Linked DNA regions of Homo sapiens. The protein of the gene in region 1 purifies or fractionates together with the protein of each later gene. This does not show direct contact. Each region holds a gene or a part of one and is shown on either strand. Other genes may lie near its edges. The genes, in order: HDHD5, TMEM63A, PCDHGB4, ELSPBP1 and TIMM44.

The links.
Region 2: the proteins of HDHD5 (region 1) and TMEM63A purify together in Homo sapiens (co-immunoprecipitation; one large-scale study listed by IntAct). This does not show direct contact.
Region 3: the proteins of HDHD5 (region 1) and PCDHGB4 purify together in Homo sapiens (co-immunoprecipitation; one large-scale study listed by IntAct). This does not show direct contact.
Region 4: the proteins of HDHD5 (region 1) and ELSPBP1 purify together in Homo sapiens (co-immunoprecipitation; one large-scale study listed by IntAct). This does not show direct contact.
Region 5: the proteins of HDHD5 (region 1) and TIMM44 purify together in Homo sapiens (affinity purification with mass spectrometry, with the first as the bait; one large-scale study listed by BioGRID). This does not show direct contact.

Annotation. Positions count from the first base shown.
Region 1 is NC_000022.11:17,139,029-17,142,840, reverse strand, and holds part of HDHD5 (haloacid dehalogenase-like hydrolase domain-containing 5 isoform 2 precursor), read left to right. Parts: intron 1-632; coding exon of another isoform or gene 633-772; exon of another isoform or gene 773-1,444; coding exon of another isoform or gene 1,445-1,448; intron 1,449-1,607; coding exon 1,608-1,782; intron 1,783-3,812.
Region 2 is NC_000001.11:225,860,992-225,865,674, reverse strand, and holds part of TMEM63A (mechanosensitive cation channel TMEM63A), read left to right. Parts: intron 1-2,823; coding exon 2,824-2,904; intron 2,905-3,096; coding exon 3,097-3,220; intron 3,221-3,323; coding exon 3,324-3,457; intron 3,458-4,677; coding exon 4,678-4,683. UniProt on the Homo sapiens protein: Mechanosensitive cation channel with low conductance and high activation threshold. In contrast to TMEM63B, does not show phospholipid scramblase activity. Acts as a regulator of lysosomal morphology by mediating lysosomal mechanosensitivity.
Region 3 is NC_000005.10:141,385,963-141,391,183, forward strand, and holds the start of PCDHGB4 (protocadherin gamma-B4 isoform 1 precursor), read left to right. Parts: upstream 1-1,735; 5' UTR 1,736-1,922; coding exon 1,923-4,319; coding exon of another isoform or gene 4,320-4,334; intron 4,335-5,221. UniProt on the Homo sapiens protein: Potential calcium-dependent cell-adhesion protein. May be involved in the establishment and maintenance of specific neuronal connections in the brain.
Region 4 is NC_000019.10:48,010,990-48,015,672, forward strand, and holds part of ELSPBP1 (epididymal sperm-binding protein 1 precursor), read left to right. Parts: intron 1-3,181; coding exon 3,182-3,319; intron 3,320-4,683.
Region 5 is NC_000019.10:7,929,621-7,934,303, reverse strand, and holds part of TIMM44 (mitochondrial import inner membrane translocase subunit TIM44), read left to right. Parts: intron 1-65; coding exon 66-215; intron 216-300; coding exon 301-440; intron 441-733; coding exon 734-819; intron 820-1,371; coding exon 1,372-1,464; intron 1,465-1,552; coding exon 1,553-1,677; intron 1,678-3,115; coding exon 3,116-3,166; intron 3,167-4,683. UniProt on the Homo sapiens protein: Essential component of the PAM complex, a complex required for the translocation of transit peptide-containing proteins from the inner membrane into the mitochondrial matrix in an ATP-dependent manner.

The DNA.
Region 1 (3,812 bases):
TCTAGTCTAGTGTTTCTCAACTTTTAAACCCAGTTCTCCCCTTTTTATACCAAGAACATTGGAATATCCCCTTTATTATCCTGAAGTGAAATTCTTAGGTAATATAACTTCTGTACACACATATTAAAAATTAGTTCAGTATAAAGCCCTAACTGTAATAGGGGGATATAAAAGGAAACATTTTTAGTAAGAAGATAATGTATTTCAGTATGTAGTAGTTATCCAAGAAGTAAAATGGTTGCACTAAACAGAATCACCATGAATGTTAACAGCTACAAATGCAGGCTGATGTGTGTTTATAGGTGTGACAGGCGTGTTTTACCGGTGACTCAGAAATTAGGGGCAGCATTGCCGTTGGTCAAGTGATTTTCCAAAATAGGTAACAGTTCTTGGTAGAGTTTTGAAAAGGCAAAGTACAGTCTTCTCTTGACTTACACGATAGTTGTATTTTTGGAAAAATTGATGTTTATTGAAGCTGTACAAAAATGCTTTGTGATTGTATGTAAAATAGAATCGTTCAAGTAATTCTGAAAAGGTTGTTCACCTGTGTGGATACCAGGATATCAGGTGGGACATTCAAATGTTATGAGGACATGGGAAAGTTTTTTCTTTTTCTTCTTGTTGTTTTGTAGAGACGGGCTCTCACTATGTTGCCCAGGCTGGTCTCAAACTCCTGAGCTCAAGCAATCCTACCACCTTGGCCTCCCAAAGTGCTGGAATTACAGACACAAGCCACCGCACGCAGCCATGGGATGGTTTTTTTAAAAATTAATTTTAGTGTGGGATAGTTTTTGATTGCACAGGATTGTCCTGAGTATGTAGCGTCCCTGGCCCCCTCCCACAACCTTCACTTGCTAGGTTCTAGTCATTGTGACAACTAAAATTGCCTCTGATTTGTAAAGCACCTCAGCAGGGGCGGTGCTGCCCCATGGAGAATCACTGGTCTGGTGCAGTTCACCGGCCCTGTACCTTAGTGTCAGCAGTGTTCTTTGCCTAGTGCTTACTGTGTGTCTAGTCCTGGGCTGTTTACCGATGATGTAGCTCATTTTTATCCTCACAATAGCTAAGTGCTGTTGCTGTTATGTAGTTGCAGTTGAGGAAACTGAGGCTTAGAGAAGAGAAGTTACTTGGCCACAGTCATACAGGAGAATCGGTGGAGTCCAGGTTGGGTTTCAAGTCTCTATCACTCCACACCCCCTGTCCTGGCTGTTAGGTTCTGCCAGTCCCTGGGGCTCAGAGAGAAGCGACTGAGGGAACAGGAGCCCTTGCTAAGTCATGTGAGGGAGAATGTGGTGGCAGAGTCCCAGCCAGCAAGGAGAAGTAGCCCTGAGACATGCTGCTTTTGTTTTGTAACCTCTTCTGTGAAGCACTGGTGGACTGAAGTCAGAATGGGAGCCCTCAGGAATCTCCTTCCTGGGCCCTGGGCCTTGTGCACCCAGGGTGGATGGGTAAGGGGCTCTACTGGGCTTGTTGGGGAGCTGTGCCCCTGCCCAGCTGGGTGCACCATGGGTGGAGGGCTTGTGGATGGGTAGCCCTAGCTGGCATCCTGAGGGCCTGCCGCCTGCCATCTGCCCTGCAGCCCTCACCTGCGCCTCTGTTCTTTAAAGGGGTGCTCCTCCTAGGGGAGCCGGTCCGCTGGGAGACCAGCCTGCAGCTGATCATGGATGTCCTCCTCAGCAATGGGAGCCCTGGGGCTGGCCTGGCAACACCCCCCTACCCCCACCTCCCCGTCCTAGCCAGCAACATGGATCTCCTGTGGATGGCTGAAGCCAAGATGCCCAGGTGAGGACACAAAGCTCCCAGCCTTGGCCTGGTGGTCTATTCCTGGCTGCTGCCTGGGCAGTCCTGCAGGCAGTTCCCATCCGTCCTGACACCCCAGGTGCCGGGACCTCACTTAGGTAGGCCCTGTTGTTGCTGCAGTAACCTGGCCTTTGGAAGGGCTTTCAAGGACCACTCCACATATTAGTTACTAAACCTAAACTACAGATTATGGAGTCTGAGGATGTATTGAGAGGATGTTTCACACGTGACCCCTGCCCCCTGTAATCTTTACAGAACATGCTCTTGGTGTCTGGTGGATCCCAAACCGTGGGCACTTTTTGTACCGTATCTGTGCACATTATTCAGTTGCTCTTCCTTCCTTGGCTCCATCCTGTAGCATTGGTTCTTTGACTTTCTGGTTTCCTTTTACCCTTCAGACATAAGGCAGGAGGAAGCAAGGATTTGTCGTTTTTTGTTTGTTTTGTTTTTTTTGCGGGGACAGTGTCTCACTCTCTCATCCAGGCTGGAGTGCAGTGGTGCAGTCATAGCTCACTGCAGCCTTGAACTCCTGGCCTCAAGTGACCCCCGTGCCTCAGCCTCCAAAAGTGCCGGGATTACAGGCGTGCTCCATCATGCCGGCCAAGGATTGTTCTGATAGTCGTATAGACCAGAGAACTGAGACCCAGCAGATAAGTGGCTTTCTCAGGGGCATGCAGGTGCCTATACTCCCTGCTCAGCTGTGTTGGTGTCATGTGTCCTGTCTTATTCTGGGGCTAGCACAGATAGAGGCAGCCCTTTTTTGGCCTCAGGGTGCTTACTTGAAGGCCAGCTGACAGCTGCTGTGTACTGTTCGGTTGCTGTTATCTGCATGGCCAGTCTCTTGAGTCTCAGCCTGCTGTTGACCCCCAGTCGACAGTGCTCGTCAGCAGAGGGTGGGCACGGCCCAGTACTGCCTCAGGGCCCGTCTCAGTAGTCCCAGAGAGACGGGGTATGGTATGCTCTTGTCACTTTTAAAGTGTATGTCTGTGGCTCGAGGCTTGGCATTGTCTCTGAAGTATTATTCCTAGAGGCGGGTATGCTGACACTAGATCAGTGGGCTTGGTTGGTTATGTCTCTGTGAACTGAAAAGCAAGGGGCAGATTTCAATTTACAAACCAGATTTTAGATGAACTTTTCTAATTAAAAGTAGAATTATTTACATAAATGACACTGAAAGATGTGGTGGCTCATGCTTGTAATCCCAACACTTCGGGAGGCCGAGGTGGGTGGATCACCTGAGGTCAGTTCAAGATCAGCCTGGCCAACATGGCAAAACCCCGTCTCTACTAAAAATATAAAAATTAGCCGGGCATGGTGGCAGGTGCCTGTAATCCCAGCTACTCGGAGGCTGAGGCAGGAGAATCACTTGAACCCAGGGGGTGGAGGTTGCAGTGAGCTGAGATTGTACCCAAGCGCCAGCCATCATATCAGCATTCCAGGTGTCAAGAAGGAGTTGGGGAGGGCAGAGAGGGCAGAGAAGAATACCGTCCCCAGTTTGTTTGTTTTTTTTTTTTAGATGGAGTCTTGCTCTTTTGCCCAGGCTGGAATGCAGTGGTGCAATCTTGGCCCGCTGCAACCTCCGCCTCCCGGGTTCAAGTGATTCTCCTGCCTCAGCCCCCCAAGTAGCTGGGACTACAGGCATGTGCCACCACACCCAGCTAATTTTTGCATTTTTGGTAGAGACAGGCTTTCACCATGTTGGCCAGACTGGTCTTGAACTCCTGACCTCAGGTGATCCACCTGCCTTGGCCTCCCAAAGTGCTAAGATTACAGGCATGAGCCACTGCGCCTGGCCGCCTGTCCCCAATTTTAAGGATGCTTATTGAAAATTTAGCCCAGCATTTCTGCTTTCCTTGACTGTAGCTTAGTCACATGGCCACGCCTCGCTGGCAGGGAGGCAAGCGAAGGTCTTTTTCACACCTAGTGGCAATATGGTCAGCTGAAAATGGACACCAGCAAAGAAGGGGAGAAGCGCAACCGTAGTCTGCCTCAGCTCTACAGCAGGATTTAAG
Region 2 (4,683 bases), on another chromosome or scaffold:
TCAAGCAGCCTGTGCACAGTGTCCAGAGCACAGACCAGGGTGTAGGTGCGAATAAACGTCTTGAGAGCATACGGGGGAAAAAATTGTTGACCCCGGGGTTCTTAGCATCACCTTTGCAGAATAAGAGAGACGTGAGCTGAGCATTTGTATGGACCCACAGGGCTAGGGTCTCACAGGTGGAAGGACCTCGGGGCCATCTCTGCGTTTGTTCGTTTGTCCACCCACTGAGCGGGTGTCTGTTGAGTGAGCACTGTGTCTGAGTCCAGGCTCTCCCTGGTAGAACCTCCTTTCCAGCGGCTCCCTTTGAGTATCTGCACCACCAATTCCTGCAGATGGAGGCTGGAGGAAAGTCTTTCCTGTGAGGAGATTACGTGTGCAGCCAGGGATGCGGGGAAAGGCCCAGAGCATCAGGAAAGGTGGCGGTGGGGTGCAGGGGGGCAGGGCAAGCAGTCCGGGAAGGCTCCCAGGACCCCATGCTGGAGGACCTGAAGGCTGGGCTGAGGAGCTGACATTTTATTCTTTCTTCATTCCTTTTTTTGTAATCTTATTTTTTTAGAGACAGGGTCTTGCTCTGTTGCCCAGGCTAGAGTTCAGTAGTGCAATAATAGCTTACTGCGGCCTCAACTCCTGGACTTAAGGCATCTTCCTGCCTCAGCCTCCCAAGTAGCTGGGACTGCAGACACATGGCACCACACCCAGCTAATTTTTAAATTTTTTATGGAGATAGAGTCTTGCTATGTTGCCCAGGCTGGTCTCGAATTGCTGGGCTCAAGTGATCCTCCTGCCTTGCCCTCCCAAAGTGCTGGGATTACAGGCGTGAGCCACCATGCCCGGCCTCTCTTCATTCCTTATCAATACAGCAGCCACTAATTTGTTGCATGGACTAGGAGTTGGCTGCACTTTAACTTTGCACTATTTGTGAAGAAAGCACTTGCTAAGCAAATTGCTAGACAGGATCGTAAACTGAATGTTTAAAATTTGAAAAACTTCTTCAGAAACTCTAAGTATTTTAGAAATATTTACTAATATGTAAATACTCAATACCAGAATCATTTTTCTGTATTTCCTTGAAGCAACTCCTCAAAGTTGCCTGCTAGGCAACACCTGGAAACAGTAATTCCACTTAATGTATAACTTTAAAGAGAAAAAAAAAGTCTCCTCATTCTCATACAAACATTGCATGACTCATGCTTTCCCCTATTTTAAGAGGCCTTTTTAGTGAATGCTGTTGCAGTCCGTGGGGATTGATGTATGAATTTGCCTTTCAAGCAGGGATGCTTAAATTGCAGTTTTCTTCCTCACAGCTCTTATTGAGACCAGAAATTGTCCTACTGTTTAATTTCATGATTGATATACCTATGGGCTGTCTCTCTCACTAAAATGTAAGCACATCCAGGCCCTGTTACCAGCACCTAGAACAGTGCCTGGCAGGTGGTAGGTGGGGATTTACATGGTTCTGGAATCCCCTGGAATTGTATGTATAATTTTGCGTGTATGGTGAGGGGGTATTGCATGGTGGCCATGAGCATTGACCTTGGAGCCAGGTTGCCTGTATTCACCTCCTGGCTCAGACACTCACTAGCTGTGTGATCTTGGGCACAAGCCACTTACCTCTGTCGGCCTCAGTTTACTCATCTGTAAAATGGGGACAAAACCTCACAGGTTATGATGAGGATTAAATAAATAAATATATGTAACAATACCTGGTCAATAGTGAGTATGTATTTTGCTGGGTTTTTTTTTTTTTTTTTTTTTTTTTTGAGACGGAGTCTCACTCTGTTGCCCAGGCTGGAGTGCAGTGGGGCAATCTTGCTCACTGCAACCTCTGCCTCCCAGGTTCAAGTGATTCTCGTGCCCCAGCCTCCCAAGTAGCTGGATTACAGGTGTGTGCCACCACACCTGGCTAATTTTTGTATTTTTAGTAGAGACAGCGTTTCACCACATTGGCCAGGCTGGTCGCAAACTCCTGACCTCAAGTGATCCACCCGGCTCAGCCTCCCGAAGTGCTGGGATTACAGGCATGAGCCACCGCACCTGGCCTTGCTGGTTGTTAATATGTGTGTAGATATTTTCTGGTCTGAGGGTCCTTTGCTTTCATTAGACCCTCTGAAAGGTCTGTGACCTTAAAAAAGGCTACCTGAATAGGATTTCAGTGATGGCTCAAGGTAGATACTGACCTAGCACAAACAATAAATCTGTTCCTTTGGGTCTTTAGAGGGGATAGTGATGTGTTCATTTTTCCCCAGGAGAAGTGCCAGCTGATTCCAAGCCAAGTGGGTATAAACTTGTCAGTTCCAGGCAGTTAGCTTCATACTACTAAAAAAGGCTAGCGGGGTGCAGTGACTCACGCCTACAATCCCAGCACTTTGGGAGGGTGAGACAGGAGGAGTGCTTGAGGCCAGAAGTTCGAAATCAGCCTGGGCAACATAGCGAGACCCCGTCTCTACAAAAAATAAAAATCAGCCTGGTGGCATGTGCCTGTAGCCCCAGCTACTCAGGAGGCTGAGGTGGGAGGATTGATTGAGCCCAGAAGGTTGAGGCTACAGTGAGCCATGATTGTGCCACTGTACAGCAGCCTGGGTGACAGAGTGAGACCCTGTCTCTAAACAAAACAAAACAAAACAAAAGCCCTCTTTGTATTAAATTTCAAAATTTCCCCCTTTTGGAGGATAAAAGACAAAGAGAAGAGAGGTCTCCGCTGGCACAGAAACCAGCAGCGAGATCACTCTGCCATCCTTTCCCTTGGATCCGTGGGCACGTCTCCTGCTTGGGGTGTTTTCTTTTCCAACGGTGTCTTTTGCCTCCTTCTCTCCCTGGCCACAGGGACGCGTATCCCACGTGTGAGGTGGTTGATGTGCAGCTGTGCTACAACGTGGCCAAACTGATCTACCTGTGCAAGGAGAAGTGAGTGGTGGGCGGGCCTTGCAAGATGCCCCCTCCTTCCTTGCTGGCCTCGCATCTCCCAGCTAGGAAGGGAGGCGGGAGGCCCTGGACCCCTCCTTCTCCCCTGGCGTTCGATGGTTGAACTGTGGGTATGGGGGTCCCTGCCACAGGATTCTAAATCTGAGGTTTGTGCCCCCGCTCCCACCCCTACAGAAAGAAGACTGAGAAGAGCCTGACCTATTACACAAACCTGCAGGTGAAGACAGGCCAGCGGACCCTCATCAACCCCAAGCCCTGTGGCCAGTTTTGCTGCTGTGAAGTGCTGGGCTGTGAGTGGGTAAGGGTCCCACCCCCCGGCTGGGAGCAGAGGCATTGGCATCGGGGTGCCCCAGATACCAGCATGGGGCCACGTCATCCCAATGGGATGTGTCTTGTGGCAGGAAGACGCCATCTCTTACTACACACGGATGAAGGACAGGCTGCTGGAGAGGATCACAGAGGAAGAACGCCACGTCCAGGACCAGCCCCTGGGAATGGCCTTCGTCACCTTCCAGGAGAAGTCCATGGCCACCTAGTGAGTGTAGGCACATCCAGACCCCTTCTTGGCTGACTCCCTGTTCCCCTCCAGATAACTCACTGTCCCTCTCGAGTGGAGATGGTACTGCTGACCCACCATCCCTGGGATTTATCTGTGGTGTTTCCTTCTCCTCCCTCAGCTACCCACACTCACTTTCAGCCAGCCCAGCCCATGTTTGTGTAACAGGCGGTGGGGGTGTGGGCAGCAGCCACGGAGTGGGTGATTCTGGCTGACCCCCTCGAGCTGATGTGGCCTGGCCCCACTGCTGGGCTCTTCCCTGCTGCCCTGGACCCATCCTGTTGGCTTCATGTGCCAGCCTTGCCCCAGGGGAGATGGAGGCACCCTCCTTTCAGACATCTGCTCTGGGCCACAGATCCTTCTGTCTGTGGCTCCCCACCTTCCCACAAATGCAAAGCTGTGGGGAAGACCCCTGGGGCACGCTGGGGCGCTCACTGCAGTGGGGAGCTTGACCCTGGGGAGTGGCTTTTCACAGTGGCCCTTGGCATGGGACTCTAGGCTCTCATGCCTGTGGTCTCAGTGTCATCTCGCCTTAGGAGCAGCACAGGGTGGGTCGGGAGAGGGGTGTGGAAAGGTGTCCAGCCACTGCCCCAGGCATTGTGACACTAGGAATGGACTCACACAGGACTTCCTGCCTCCTTGCAGACACTGGGGCAGGAGGAAAGGGGAAGGCATCTGAGGCAGGAGTAGAGGGGCTGCTGGGCTCCTTACGGGAGGTTAAAGGAGGAAAAGCTGTGACCTGTTGAGATGGTGAGGGTCGAGGTGGGAGCCCTGAGGAGGGAAGCTTGGGAACAGGCAATGTGTAACGTGGTCTATTGCTACACTTGGGCCTGGGGAAAAAGTGACAGAATGAAAAGTTGAGCCACTGGCCTGGCAGTAGCACTGATCAGAGCTCCAGCTTAACAGGCAGGGTGGAGGGGGATGGCCCTATGGAAGAGCAGTGTGTTGCCCTCAGTTTCCTTATCTGTAAAATGGGAATCGTACTCCCTTTGTTGCTGGTGGTTGCGAGGATTAAACAAAATTCTCCACACACTGTGCTAGCGTGGCACCTCTTACATAGCGTTACTCATAATACACTAATCACAACAAAGCAAAGGTCCTATGCCACTGCCTCCCACTCCTACTCAGTCCCCACTTGCCACATGTGTGCTTGGTAACCTGAGTAGCCTGGGCCTGGCTGTTGCTACATTTCCTTGCAGCATCCT
Region 3 (5,221 bases), on another chromosome or scaffold:
TCGGACAAAACCAATAAAATATGTCAAATAAAATGTCATTTTAAGTGTTGTAATTGGCATTTGTGACATAGGCAATTACATGTTTTAACAGAGAATTCCAGTATGTTGTTTTAGTGGTACAGCCAGATGAAGTGTGTCTGTGGGCTATCAAAGTGGGAGATTGGGGATACTGGCTTTGTTTCAACTGTCTCACGTACTCAAACCTTAGACCATCTTATGTACACAGATCCTAGACCAGTAGTTGATTTTATTTATTAGGTCTACTGAAAAATTCAGTTGGAAATAACCCAATCTGGGATTAACTACTTCCATATTCTTTTGTATAACATTTTAGTAAAGCTCAGTATATCAAGTGATTGTCATCCAGAAGGGGTGGATGACAAGGTAATCTTGATTCCAGAGACCTTTGAGTATTAATTAAAAACACACTTTTAGCCAGGTATGGTGTTGCAAGCTGTAGCCCACCTGCATGGGAGGCTGAGGCAAGAGGACAGCTTGAACCCAAGAATTGGAGGCCCACCTAGATAATATAACAAGACTCTGTCTCTTCAAAAAAAGACTCTTTTTAGACTAGTGTTGTATTTGGTAGTATTTTGCACATGATAGACTCTGTACAATAGTGTGGGGGATACATTTTTTTTTTTTGACATGGAGTCTCGCTCTGTCACCCAGGCTGGATACATTTTACAAGTTCTGCAGTGTTCACATTTCAGATGTACAATCACTTGGGGTAGAAGACAATGTTGCTGACACCAACAATGTTACTGAGGGAAGATCCTATGGCAGAACTACGGTTATAAGGTATTTTGTAAAAGAAAATCTCCTGACCAAAATTTATTAGATGCATAAAATTGTTTTTAAGCAATGGAGAGACATAATCACTAAACTCAGTGAGCTATTGCAATCAAACTTTCCAGGGATTGTTTCCTTCAATTCAGAGGTCACCAAGGAATGTAAAATAAGTGCAGAGGTAGGAAGCAGTGCTTCAGTGCAGCAGATCTCAGTGACTTTGTGTTTTGAGGCTATGTATTATCCCCCTGATAACTTTGAAGATGAATGTTGTATTTCATAACCAGTAAAATAATTGTGTAATGAGGAGAGGAGTAGGCTACTGCCTGTGATCATCGAAATGAGAATCACATAATATTCCTGTAATGAAATCACTGAAACTATTGGGAAGGGGGTGTATTTGAAGATAAGTATAAATTGCACCTTCTAAAAGGCAATTTTGGTATTACTGATACTCTCCGGAAAAAGTTGAAATAAATCAACTTGGAGGTACTTAGAAAAGTGGAGAAAATGTTAGGAACAATGAAAGAAAGATAAAATGTATCCAGTATATTTCTAATGAGTAAGTATGGAAAATTACTGTACTCTGAGACGGTTTAGGCCAAGTCTGTGTTATGGCTATCTTTATATAGATAGTGCATGTTTGAAGATTGGGGAAAGCTTATGTCAATAAATGTTTATGTACTTAATCTACATGATTTGCCTAAAAATCCTCAAAGTTGGGATGAAGGCATTCCTAAGAGTACATTTTTAGACGTCATTAAATATACAGACGTATCCACGTAGTTTTTGTTCTTTCAGTTAGGCACACAATTATAATTATTGCACTGGTTAACTTGAAGCAGCAGAGGCTGTAGTTTCCTAGTGCTGACTCTGGGCGCCGCTGTTGGCCAAAGTGGAGAGCTTGGCGCTCCAGATCTCCTCGCGCAGCCGCAGCGCGCTTTCCAGGGCAGCCCCAGCTCAGACTCCCCAGCGCCAGCCTTTACACCGCTTCCTCCTCGGAAAAAGAAGAATTTTTTCTTGAACTGGAACTGCAACTAAAGTCCGTTCGGAGATCCAAAAATCTGCAATACAGAGGTTATTTGTAACCCGGCGTCTCCAGGCTGGTGAGCAAGCTGAGGAGAGCAAGAGGGATGGGGAGCGGCGCCGGGGAGCTGGGCCGGGCTGAGAGGCTGCCAGTGCTCTTTCTCTTCCTGCTGTCTTTGTTCTGCCCGGCGCTCTGTGAGCAGATCCGCTACAGGATTCCCGAGGAAATGCCCAAGGGCTCCGTAGTGGGGAACCTCGCCACGGACCTGGGGTTCAGCGTCCAGGAGTTACCGACTCGAAAACTGCGCGTCAGTTCGGAGAAGCCTTACTTCACCGTGAGCGCAGAGAGCGGGGAGTTGCTTGTGAGCAGCAGGCTAGACAGGGAGGAGATATGCGGGAAGAAGCCAGCTTGTGCTCTGGAATTTGAGGCTGTTGCTGAAAATCCACTGAACTTTTATCACGTGAATGTGGAGATCGAGGACATTAATGACCACACGCCAAAATTCACGCAAAATTCCTTTGAGCTGCAAATAAGTGAGTCTGCACAGCCTGGCACACGATTTATATTAGGATCTGCCCATGATGCGGATATTGGTAGCAACACACTGCAGAATTACCAACTCAGTCCCAGTGATCATTTCTCACTGATAAATAAAGAGAAATCAGATGGCAGTAAATACCCTGAGATGGTATTGAAGACACCTTTGGACAGAGAAAAGCAGAAATCCTACCACTTGACTTTGACTGCCTTGGACTTTGGAGCTCCACCCCTAAGCAGCACTGCACAGATACACGTTCTAGTGACTGATGCCAATGATAATGCTCCAGTGTTCAGTCAAGACGTATACAGGGTGAGCCTTTCAGAAAACGTGTACCCGGGGACCACGGTGCTACAGGTGACTGCCACGGACCAGGATGAGGGTGTCAATGCCGAGATTACTTTCTCTTTCAGTGAAGCTAGCCAGATCACCCAATTTGACCTGAACTCTAACACCGGGGAAATTACTGTTTTAAATACATTAGATTTTGAAGAAGTCAAAGAATATTCCATAGTTTTGGAAGCAAGGGACGGTGGAGGAATGATTGCGCAATGCACAGTGGAGGTAGAAGTCATAGATGAAAATGACAACGCCCCAGAAGTGATATTCCAGTCTCTACCCAACCTAATTATGGAGGACGCCGAGCTGGGAACACATATTGCTTTGCTCAAAGTCCGTGACAAGGATTCCAGACACAATGGAGAAGTGACTTGTAAATTGGAAGGTGATGTTCCATTTAAAATATTAACTTCTTCAAGAAACACGTATAAATTAGTGACAGATGCTGTTCTAGACCGCGAGCAGAATCCAGAGTACAATATAACCGTTACGGCAACAGATCGGGGCAAGCCTCCCCTCTCCTCCAGTTCCAGCATCACCCTGCACATTGGTGATGTAAATGACAACGCTCCGGTTTTCTCACAGTCTTCCTATATAGTCCACGTGGCCGAGAACAACCCGCCTGGAGCCTCTATTTCACAAGTCAGGGCTTCTGATCCGGACTTGGGGCCCAACGGCCAAGTCTCTTACTGCATCATGGCCAGTGACCTGGAGCAGCGGGAGCTGTCATCCTACGTGTCCATAAGCGCGGAGAGCGGGGTGGTGTTCGCGCAGCGCGCCTTCGACCACGAGCAGCTGCGCGCCTTCGAACTCACACTGCAGGCCCGCGACCAGGGCTCGCCAGCGCTCAGCGCGAACGTGAGCCTGCGCGTGTTAGTGGACGACCGCAACGACAATGCGCCACGGGTGCTGTACCCCGCGCTGGGTCCCGACGGCTCTGCGCTCTTCGATATGGTGCCGCACGCTGCAGAGCCTGGCTACTTGGTGACCAAGGTAGTGGCGGTGGACGCAGACTCAGGACACAACGCCTGGCTGTCCTACCACGTGCTGCAGGCTAGCGAGCCCGGGCTCTTCAGCCTGGGGCTGCGCACGGGCGAAGTGCGCACAGCGCGTGCCTTAGGCGACAGGGACGCCGTCCGCCAGCGCCTTCTGGTCGCCGTGCGTGACGGTGGACAGCCACCACTCTCGGCCACTGCCACGTTGCACCTGGTCTTCGCCGACAGCTTGCAGGAGGTGCTGCCGGATATCACTGACCGCCCCGACCCCTCTGACCTCCAGGCTGAGCTGCAGTTTTACCTAGTGGTGGCCTTGGCCTTGATCTCAGTGCTCTTCCTCGTGGCCATGATTCTGGCCATTGCCTTGCGCCTGCGACGCTCCTCCAGCCCCGCCTCCTGGAGCTGCTTCCAGCCTGGTCTCTGTGTTAAATCCGAATCCGTGGTTCCCCCCAACTACAGCGAGGGGACTTTGCCTTATTCCTACAATCTATGTGTTGCACATACAGGAAAGACGGAGTTTAATTTCCTAAAATGTAGTGAGCAGTTGAGTTCAGGACAAGACATACTTTGCGGTGATTCATCTGGGGCCTTATTTCCACTTTGTAATTCCAGTGAATTGACTTCCCATCAGGTGAGTTTCCTTTAAGTATAATTTAATGCTCATTGCCTACCCATTTCTCCATATTCACAAGAAAATATACATATTTGCAGGAAAATATATAATTTTTAGATGTCATGGATCATTTTAGGAAAGTTGTAGTCAGTTAAAAAGCTGTCATATCATTCTACAAAGGAGGAGTAAAGTAGGAGCAATTGTGTGGCCCAACATTTGTTTGTTTTTTAGCCAAGCTTAGATTTATAAAGCAATGAGGGTGTGGTTTTAACCACAAAGTGAAAGTGTTAGACAGTTGTTGGCTCTCTCCTAAAAAGTGAATGAGATTTTTCCTATACATTTTCCTTCTTGTTGACTAATATATGATGAATACTTTTTTCAGCTTGGATATACCATAAATATAAAAATAATAAAGCCAAAGAATTTAAGCTAAAATTCAACACTTTTCTTAACTAATTTAACTGGTATGGTCTCCATAGTAGTCCACTGTTTTGTTTCCTGTGTTAACTTCCCTTTTGTTTCAAAAGCTCTTAGAATAAGGAGTCAACTGGATTTTTATGTCCATGGACCCCTTGTGATTATATGCAGTGTACGCTGTGTGTGCGTGTGTGTGTGTGTGTGTGTGAGAGAGATCCTTTTACTTAGAAAAAGGTCTACTATGCTCATTAGAAGATCAAAAGCAGATTCTCCTTACTTGTAACATAGGAGTTTCAGGATTAATCTGTATTCAAGCTCATTCTATATCCTTCATCAAAGAAAAGACAATGTTTTGTGTCTGTTGTCCCTCTCACACACAGCCCTAATATATAATGTGTAACTGCCTTATCTGCAGCCCTAAACTAATATAGCTAGAGGTCTTCTAATCATTCTCCTACCTCTAGGAAAGAAATATAGTCTTGAAAACTGCCAATCTGGTGTGC
Region 4 (4,683 bases), on another chromosome or scaffold:
CATTGATAATGACAATAATGACAGTGAAGATGACAATGATAATGATGAGGATGATGATGATATGACGATGATGACAATGATGACGGTAATGATGACAACAATAATAGCGACAATGACAATGATGATGGTGACAGTGATGATGATGACGATGATGATAATGATTATGACAATGATGTGATGAGGAGGAAAATAATGATTACAATAATGATGACAATGATGATGAGAATGACAATAATGGGGTTGATGATGATGATGACAATGATTGATAATGATGATGACAATGACGATGATGATCACCATGATAATGACAATAATGAGGTTGATAATGATGGTGACAATGACTGATGATGATGACAATTATGACGATGATGATGATGATGGTGACAATGATGATGACGATGATAATGATGATGTCAATAATGATGTGATGAGGAGGAGAATAATGATCACGATGACAGTGATGATGATGACAATGACAATAATGAGGTTGATGATAATGACAATGACTGATAATGATGATGACAATGATGATGACAATGACTGATAATGATGACAATGATGATGATGACAATGATGATCATCATCACATGATAATGACAATAATGAGGTGGATTATGATGACAATGATGATGACAACGATGATGATGATCATCATCCTGATGACAATGACAATAATGAGACTGATGATGGTGACAATGACTGATGATGATGATCATGACAATGATGATGAGCATTATGATGATGCCAATGACAATAGCGTGGAGAATGATGATGATGACAGTGATGGTAATGATGATGATGATGACAATGATAATCATAGCTAATATTTATTAAGCAGCAGCCATGCTCCAGGTACTCTTCTAAGCACTTTCCAGATTTAAACTGGTTTAAGTTTCACAAAAATAAATACCAAACAGTTCTGAGAAACAAGGTGAAAAATGCAATGAACTAACAGTTGAGCAAGTTGAGCTCTCATCCCAGGTCTACAAAAAAAAAGCAATCAACTTTAATTAGTCCTTATTGTACGTGGGTTTTCATGTAATGAGGAATTTGGGATAGAATAGCATTTCTTTCTTTTTTCAAAAAAATTTACACATCAAAATTCTGCAGAACACCGTTTTTGTTTTTTGTTTTGTTCTGTTTTGTTTTGTTTTCAGACAGGGTCTCACTCTGTCACCCAGGCTGGAGTACAGTGGTGCAATCATGGCTCACTGTGGCCTCAACTACTCAGGCTCAAAGGGTCTTCCCCTCAGCCTCCCAAGTAGCTGGGATTACAGGGGCACACCACCATGCCCGGCTAATCTTGTTTGTTTGTTTTTTTGTAGAGATGGGGGTCTCACTTTGTTGCTCAGGCGGGTCTTGAAGCGATCCGCCCACCTCAGCCTCCCAAAGTGCTGGGATTACAGGCATGGAGCATTGTGCCTGGCCGAGAACAGCATTTTTTGATATATTTCAGGGACCATTAGTCTCTAGTGCCATTGAATTTTGAAAAAAAAGAAGGACAACTCGATATACTGTATTCATCAATTCTCATTTTCATATTAACTTTTCTGTTGAGTCCTTCATTAAAGAAACCTGTTTAACTTTATTTCACGTGGCATTTTTCCAAACTTATTTTATTGTTTCTGTTGTTTCTTGAGCAAATAATTATTCTAGGTTCTGTAGATACACTGCACAAAAAACAAAGTTCCTGTACTCATTGAGAAGAATAAGGACGTCGAAAGTTGTCCCCTCAATATTTGCCACATCTGGGTACCACCAGTACTATTATTTACTCAACATTTTTCTTTAAATTTGCTTACTTTTCTTCACTTTAAAAAATTCATTTTGGGAGATTGGTTAACATCAGTATTATAATATAAAAAAGCACTACCACTTTCCATAAATAGGAAGTACGACCAAAAAGAAATACTGTACTATGAAAACAAAATCCCATTATTAAATTCTGCTAGACTATCGTCCGAATAAAGCTTTGAGTTTGAGTCCTGCTCCCCACCCCCCTCTCTTTTTTGTTAAAATGGGAGATTATTAAGTATTAGAGATGCAGTAGAGAAATACTACTATTAAATTGAAGCTTTCTCTTTTGCGTAAGCAGAAGGACTAAAAGGACCACTGGAAAATGATTTTTTTCTAGTCTATATTTCAAAATTATTTAATGTGTGTCCTTACATAACCTAATGTGATCTTGTGATCCACCAAAAAGTATTTTGTGTAATGTCATTGGCCCCCCATTTTATGCTCTGAGAAACAGTGGTCTCAAGGAACAACACACCACGGTTGTCTTGGTTGTGTATGAAACTCTTCCCCAGTGCTCCTGGCCCCAACATGAACTGGATATGCTCTGACATGTCATTAGGAAATTGGATGCTAAGCCTAGGTGTGTAGCCTTCAGGCCACCATGAGAACTGTCTCAGTCCATTTGGGTTGCCATAACAAAATACCACAGGCCAGGCATGGTGGCTTACGCCTGTAATCCCAGCACTGTGGGAGGCCAAGGTGGGAGGATCACCTGAGGTTAGGAGTTTGAGACCAGCCTGGCCAACATGGCAAAACCCCGTCTCTACTAAAAATACAAAAATTTGCTAGGTGTGGTGGCGGGCACCTGTAATCCCAGCTACTTTAGAGGCTGAGGCAGGAGAATCTCTTGAACCCAGGAGGTGGAGGTTGCAGTGAGCTGAGACCAGACTACTGCACTCCAGCCTGGGTGACAGAGTAAGACTTCATCTCAAAAAAAAAAAAAGTAAATAAAATAAAATTTAAAAAGTACCATTGACTGCGTAGCTTATAAACAATATAAATTTCTGTCTCCCAGTTCTGGAGGCTGAGAAGTCCAAGGGCAAGTCACCAGCAGTTTCAGTTGCTGGTGAGGGCCTGCCTCCTGGTTCACAGATGGTGCCTTCTTGCTGTATCCTCACATCGTAGAAGGGGCTAGCTAGCTCTCTGGGGTCTCTTATAAGGGTTCTTATCTCAGTCATGAAGGCTCTGCCCTTACGACCTAATCACCTTCCAAAGGCCCCTCGTACCATGACCGTGGGGGTTAGGATTTTAACATATGAATTTTGCGGCGGGGGCAGGGAGGGAACACGGACATTCATATTAAAGCAAGAGCCAAACCAAGACTCATCCTTTGCTAATTCATCGTGATTCTTCCCCACTCCTGTTTTCTCCTTCTGCCCTTCAGGGATGCATGAGGAATGTGTCTTTCCTTTCACCTACAAGGGATCTGTTTACTTCACTTGCACCCATATTCATAGCTTATCCCCTTGGTGTGCCACCAGAGCCGTGTACAACGGCCAGTGGAAGTACTGCCAGAGTGAAGGTGAGTGGTATCACATTGTCCCTGCCAGTGGCCTTTGAATAGGGTGGATCACAAAAGAGAATGTGTGACTGTCTATGACATGATCACATTTTTGCAGACAAACGGTAATACGTATGCGTGCGTAGAAAAGGCTCTGGGTTTTAATGATCGCCATTCTAACTTGTGTGAGAACACATGGACACAGGAAGGGGAACATCACACACCGGGGACTGTTGTGGGGTGGGGGGCGGGGGGAGGGATAGCATTAGGAGATATACCTAATGCTAAAGACGAGTTAATGGGTGCAGCACACCAGCATGGCACATGTATACATATGTAACAAACCTGCACATTGTGCACATGTACCCTAAAACTTAAATTATAATAATAATAAAATTTAAAAAAATCAGTGATAATGTAATGGGTAATAAATGATATATAATTACTGTTTTTAATTTCCACAAATAAAAAAAAAAGAAAAAGAAAAGGCTCTGGGATGCCTGACAATGAATGCTAATAATGGGTAATAATGTTAATAATGCTAGTGTTAAAAATAGTGCTCTCTGGATGAGGGTCTTGTGATACTGTAAGACTAGTTGACCCAATAGAACCATCCCATCTTTATGCCTTTCTTAATTTTCTAAGTTAATAAGGAAAAAGGAAACGAAGTGTAAGAAACGGGATTTGAGGCTGGGCGAGGTGGCTCATGCCTGTAATCCCAGCAAAACTTAACTACTAATAGCCTGCTATTGACGAGACGGCTTACCAGTAACATAAACTGTCAATTAACACATATGTTTTATGTCTTATGTATTATATACCGTATCTCATAATAAAGGAAACTAGAGAAAAGAAAATGTTAATAAGAAAATGGTAAAAAGGAGGAAATATGTTTGCTATCCATTAAGTGGGAATGGATCAGCATAAAGGTCATTAGCATCATCTTCATGTTGAGGAGGAGGAGGAAGAGGAAGGGTTGGTCTCACCATCTTGGGATGACAGAGGCAGAAGCAATGGAGGAGGTGGAAGGGGAGGCAGGAGAGACAGACACATTCAACATAACTTTTTTTGAAAAACACCCATGCCCACTGGGCACAGTGGCTCATGCCTGTAATCCCAGCACTTTGGGAGGCCGAGGCGGGTGGATCACCTGAGGCCAGGAGTTCGAGACCAGCCTGGGCAACATGGCGACACCCCATCTCTACTAAAAATTAAAAAAAATTAGCTGGGTGTGGTGGCAGGCATCTGTAATCCCAGCTACTCGGGAGGCTGAGGCAGGAGAATTGCTTGAACCCAAGAGGCAGAGGTTGCAGTGAGCCAAGATCTCGCTATTGCACTCTAATCTGGGCAACAGAGTGAGACTCTGTCTCGAAAAAAAGAAAAGA
Region 5 (4,683 bases), on another chromosome or scaffold:
TCCTGCCCCGCCCCCCGGCCGCCAGGGCCGGTGCCAACGCCCCCTCTCTGTGTCTGTCTCAGTAGAGCCTTCACGAAGTCAGTAAAAGTGATCTCGGCCGGAAAATCAAGGAGGGCGTGGAGGAAGCAGCCAAGACGGCCAAGCAGTCGGCCGAGTCGGTATCCAAAGGCGGGGAGAAGCTGGGCAGGACAGCGGCCTTCAGAGCCCTCTCCCAGGTGAGCCCAGTCCTGGGCTAGGGCATGCAGCCTGGGGCGGCCGAACCCAGACACCCACCCCAGCCCCGCTGTGCCTCCCTCGCAGGGGGTGGAGTCCGTGAAGAAGGAAATTGACGACAGCGTCCTGGGACAGACCGGGCCCTACCGGAGGCCCCAGCGACTCCGGAAGAGAACGGAGTTTGCGGGAGATAAGTTCAAGGAGGAGAAAGTGTTTGAGCCAAACGAGTAGGTACCAGCCCGTGGCCCTCGCTGCCCCCATTTTGGGCAGCTTTCACTGCTGTCCATTTCGGGAGCCCACCAATGGTTCCCTCCTGAGTCCGTTTCTTGAGTTTGCCTTCTGCCCAAGGTTCCCGGCTCCCTCGAATTTGAGGGTGAGAGGTGAGGGCGGGGTCCTCAGAGCCCCTAGGTTTGAGGTCTCAGCTGCCTGCTGTCCTGTACTGCCCCCTGCCTGCAGCCGCAGGAGGGCACAGGGTGGCCCTGGCGCCGCCGCTCACCCCAGGGCCCACCCTCTTCCCCAGGGAGGCCCTGGGGGTCGTGCTGCACAAGGACTCCAAGTGGTACCAGCAGTGGAAGGACTTCAAGGAGAACAACGTGGTGTTTAACCGTGAGTGAAGGTGTCTTGGAGGGCAGGTGACTGTGTCCCGGGCAGTTGGTGGACCGCAAGGTGATCCCCCTGCATTGGGCACAAGACAGCCCCGTTTTGCAGAGGAGGAGATCGGGGTCAGAGTGGGCCGGTCACTTCTTTGCGGTCACATGATGGTGGGGCTGTAGATTCTGCCGCCAGAAGCCAGGTGCTCCCTCATAAGCACAGTCAGGGCCCCGAAACGAGCCGCAGGCCCCTGTCCCTTGTCCTGTGAGGACTGCTAGAGGCCTGTGTTTCCTTTGTAGTGAAAGCAACAGCCAGTGGGGTGGCGGCCCATAACTTACACAGCCCCATTAGGGCCGCAGCTGAGGGGCCTCTGCGCCTGGCCAGGTAGGTGGGCAGGCAGCGGTCCCCAAGCACAGATGAGGATGCAGGTCCACAGCCGTCCCCTCCCTGACCCCACCCGTGTCAGGGTGGATCCCGCAGGGGTCACAGGGAGCCTCTAGAAGCTGTGAGGGAGGGTTGTGTTTCTGGAAGGGGCCCCTTCTCCAGCACCTACCCCATCTTCCACAGGGTTCTTCGAGATGAAGATGAAGTATGACGAAAGCGACAACGCGTTCATCCGGGCATCCCGGGCCCTTACGGACAAGGTCACCGACTTGCTGGGTGAGTGAGTCATCCCTGGACCTCGCAGGCTGGTGGTGGGGCGGGGTCCCCGGCCTTCCCCCCGAACTCCCGGCTCTGCTCCCTGCAGGGGGCCTGTTCTCCAAGACAGAGATGTCGGAGGTGCTCACGGAGATCCTCCGGGTGGACCCGGCCTTTGACAAGGACCGGTTTCTGAAACAGTGCGAGAACGACATCATCCCCAATGTCCTGGAGGTGGGTGCCACACCCCCAGGACCCCTCCCAGGCGGCAGGTCCTGGCTCCACCACCTCCCCCGCCGCAGCCGGCACCCTGGGTGCTGCCAGGGAACTCTGCTGCCGAGGCTGTTTTCTGAGGAGGCTGGTTGCACACGGGCTCCTGCCCGGCTGCAGCTGCCCCATGAGCTGTGCCCGAAGCCCTTCCTGGGCCTTACCGGCACCTCCGGTACCTCCAGGTCTGTTTCCCTCACTCCTCCTGCCTGAGGCTGTTGTTCCTTTGAGGTTGCTGGGAGCAGCTGCTGGAGGCTAGGGATTGTCTCAGGTGCCTGGAGCCCCTCACCCCTTGGGAGAAGTGGGCGTCTGTCTTCAGACATCAGAGCTGGCCCCAGGCCACGTCTGACCCAGAGCTGCAGCCGTGAGGTTCCCTCACGGTGCTGTCCCTGGCAACCAGACCCTTGTTGGGCTTATAGATGAGGGTATCTTGCTCAAGGTCATGCTGCAGCCTGCCCCCTATAAGCCTCTCCCTGAGGTTGGTGGCCTCTTGTCTTCCCTGCTGCCTCTGCCTCTCTGCAGCCCCCAGGATGCAGGAGGAGCCTGGACACCTTCGGCCCAGTCGGGCCAGGCCTCTGGAAGGCCCTTCATGGGACTCTCCATCCTTGGCCCCGCCGGCCTCCGCCCAACGTCCTCTTCCTCCTCCAGTTTCCCGTATCCTTCCCGCCACTTCGGGCAGGGCTGGGAGGTGGTGCGGATGGGCGCCATGCCCCAAAACAGCAGCCTGAGCACCGCAGTGCCTTCCGGGATGGGTGATGGGTGCCAAGTGTTCTGGCCACCCGCCCCCTGCCGCTCACAGCTTTCACCACCAGCATCCGGCTCCTTCCCGCTCTTCTCCCCGCTCCAGGCACCTCCCTCCCCCTCATCGGATCCGGCCCAGGCTCCAGGATCCTGTGGAAGCAGCTCCCAGCCCAGGCACGCCCCCTGCAGCCCACCCCTCCCTCTCGCTGCCCCCAGCAGTTAGGAGGCAGCCGGTCCCATGGTGGGCCTTGCAGTCCGAAATGTGGTCCCCTGGGGGGACAGAGGACATGGGCTCACTGCGGGAGCCGGAGTTGGGTCCTCATCTCCCTGGCTTGGATTCCTGACCAGGCTGAAAGCTGGGTCCCCAGCCACCTTTCTCTTCCTCCACCAGGTTCCAGGGGGGTCCCCCTGTGGGGTGCCTCCTGGGTGGTCGCCCGCAGGCCGCCCTCCGCCTGTGCCTAGGCCAGAGCCAGGCACTGACACCAGCAGGGACGGGCCTGGGGGGGACACCCAGTGCCACAGCTCCACCCGCGCCCCACAGGTGGCAGCCGGGGGTGTCTGAGGAAACTCCCCACCCCGCACCACTGGAGAATGTTCCCAGGACCTCGCCTGCTGCCTGAAAAGCCCACTCTCGTTCTGGTGCTTATTTTCCCTTCCTTTTTAGGCCATGATTTCTGGAGAGCTTGACATTCTCAAAGACTGGTGCTATGAAGCTGTGAGTACTTCCTTTCTTTTTCTTTTTTTTTTTTTAAGGCCTAAAAAATCACCATGGAGAAGTTCCACTTCGGTGGCTCCGTTGGGGTAGCTCCCAACAGGCAGGACCTGGGCTCCCGGTGGGGGAATCCTCACGTCTCACCCTCCGAGAGCCTGACATCCCCCCCTGCCCCTTTCCATTCCTCAGCATGTGACACATCTGGGCTCTCAGGCTGGACACCGGGTCACCCGCCAGTCCTTTGCTCCCAGACTGTAAACTTTGTTAGGGAGAATCCTTCTCTGGGCTGGTGTCTAAGAGATGGCTGGTTGGGGGTGTCCCCTGGGCCTGTGAGAGATCACAAAGCTGCCAATTTTACTGGGCCTTTTTTTTCCCTCCAATCTTAAAATAATTTTGGTTAGGTCTGGGCACGGTGGCCTATGCTTTCAATCCCAGCAGCCCAAGGCGGGAGATTGCTTGAGCCCAAGCATTCAAGACTAGCCTGGGAAACATAGCAAGATCCCGTCTCTACAAAAACATTTAAAATGAGCCAAGTGGCAGGGTGCGGTGGCTCATGCCTGTAATCCCAGCACTTTGGGATGCCAAGGCAGGCGATTGCCTGAGCTCAAGAGTTCGAGACCAGCCTGGGCAACATGGTGAAACCCCATCTCTACTAAAATAAAAAGTTAGCCAGGCATGCTGGTGCATGTCTGTAATCCCAGCTACTGGGGAGGCTGAGGCAGTAGAATTGCTTAAATCCGGGAGGTGGAGGTTACAGTGAGCTGAGGTCGCGCCACTGCACTTCAGCCTGGGCAACAGAGCAAGATTCTGTCTCCAAAAAAAAAAAAAAAAAAAAAAGAGCCAAGCATGGAGGCAGGCACCTGTTGTCCCAGCTATTAGGGAGGCTGAGGTGGGAGGATCACTTGAGCTCACGAGGTCAAGGCTGCAGTGAGTCATCGCAGCACAGCACTCCAGCCTGGGTGACAGATCAAGACACTGTCACTAAGGAAATAGGTCGGGCACGGTGGCTAACGCCTGTCATCCCAGCACCTTGGGAGGCTGAGGCGGGCGGATCACCTGAGGTCAGGAGTTCGAGACCAGTCTGGCCAACATGGTGAAACCCTGTCTCTACTAAAAATACAAAAATTAGCCAGGCCTGGTGGTGGGCGCCTGTAATCCCAGCTACTCGGGAGGCTGAGGCAGGAGAATCGCTAGAACCCAGGAGGCGGAGGCTGCAGTGAGCCGAGATTGCACCACTGCACTCCAGCCTGGGCAACAGAGCGAGACTGTCTTAAAAAAAAAGAAATAATAATTTAGGGAAGGAGAGTCCCAGGAGAGGTGGTTGCAGCCATGAAGTAAAATGAGGTGTCTGGGGGCCGACTGCCCTATTTCAGGTGGCTGCAGTGGCCTGGGGTGCAGGCTGGGGCCGGGGGTCAGGGACAGTGTGGGTCTCCCACATGACTGGGGGGGGGCTGGGAGTCAAGTGGGGTTTGAAGGTGTCACCCATCCCACTTCCCAGGCCAGAGCAGAGTCCCTGTGCT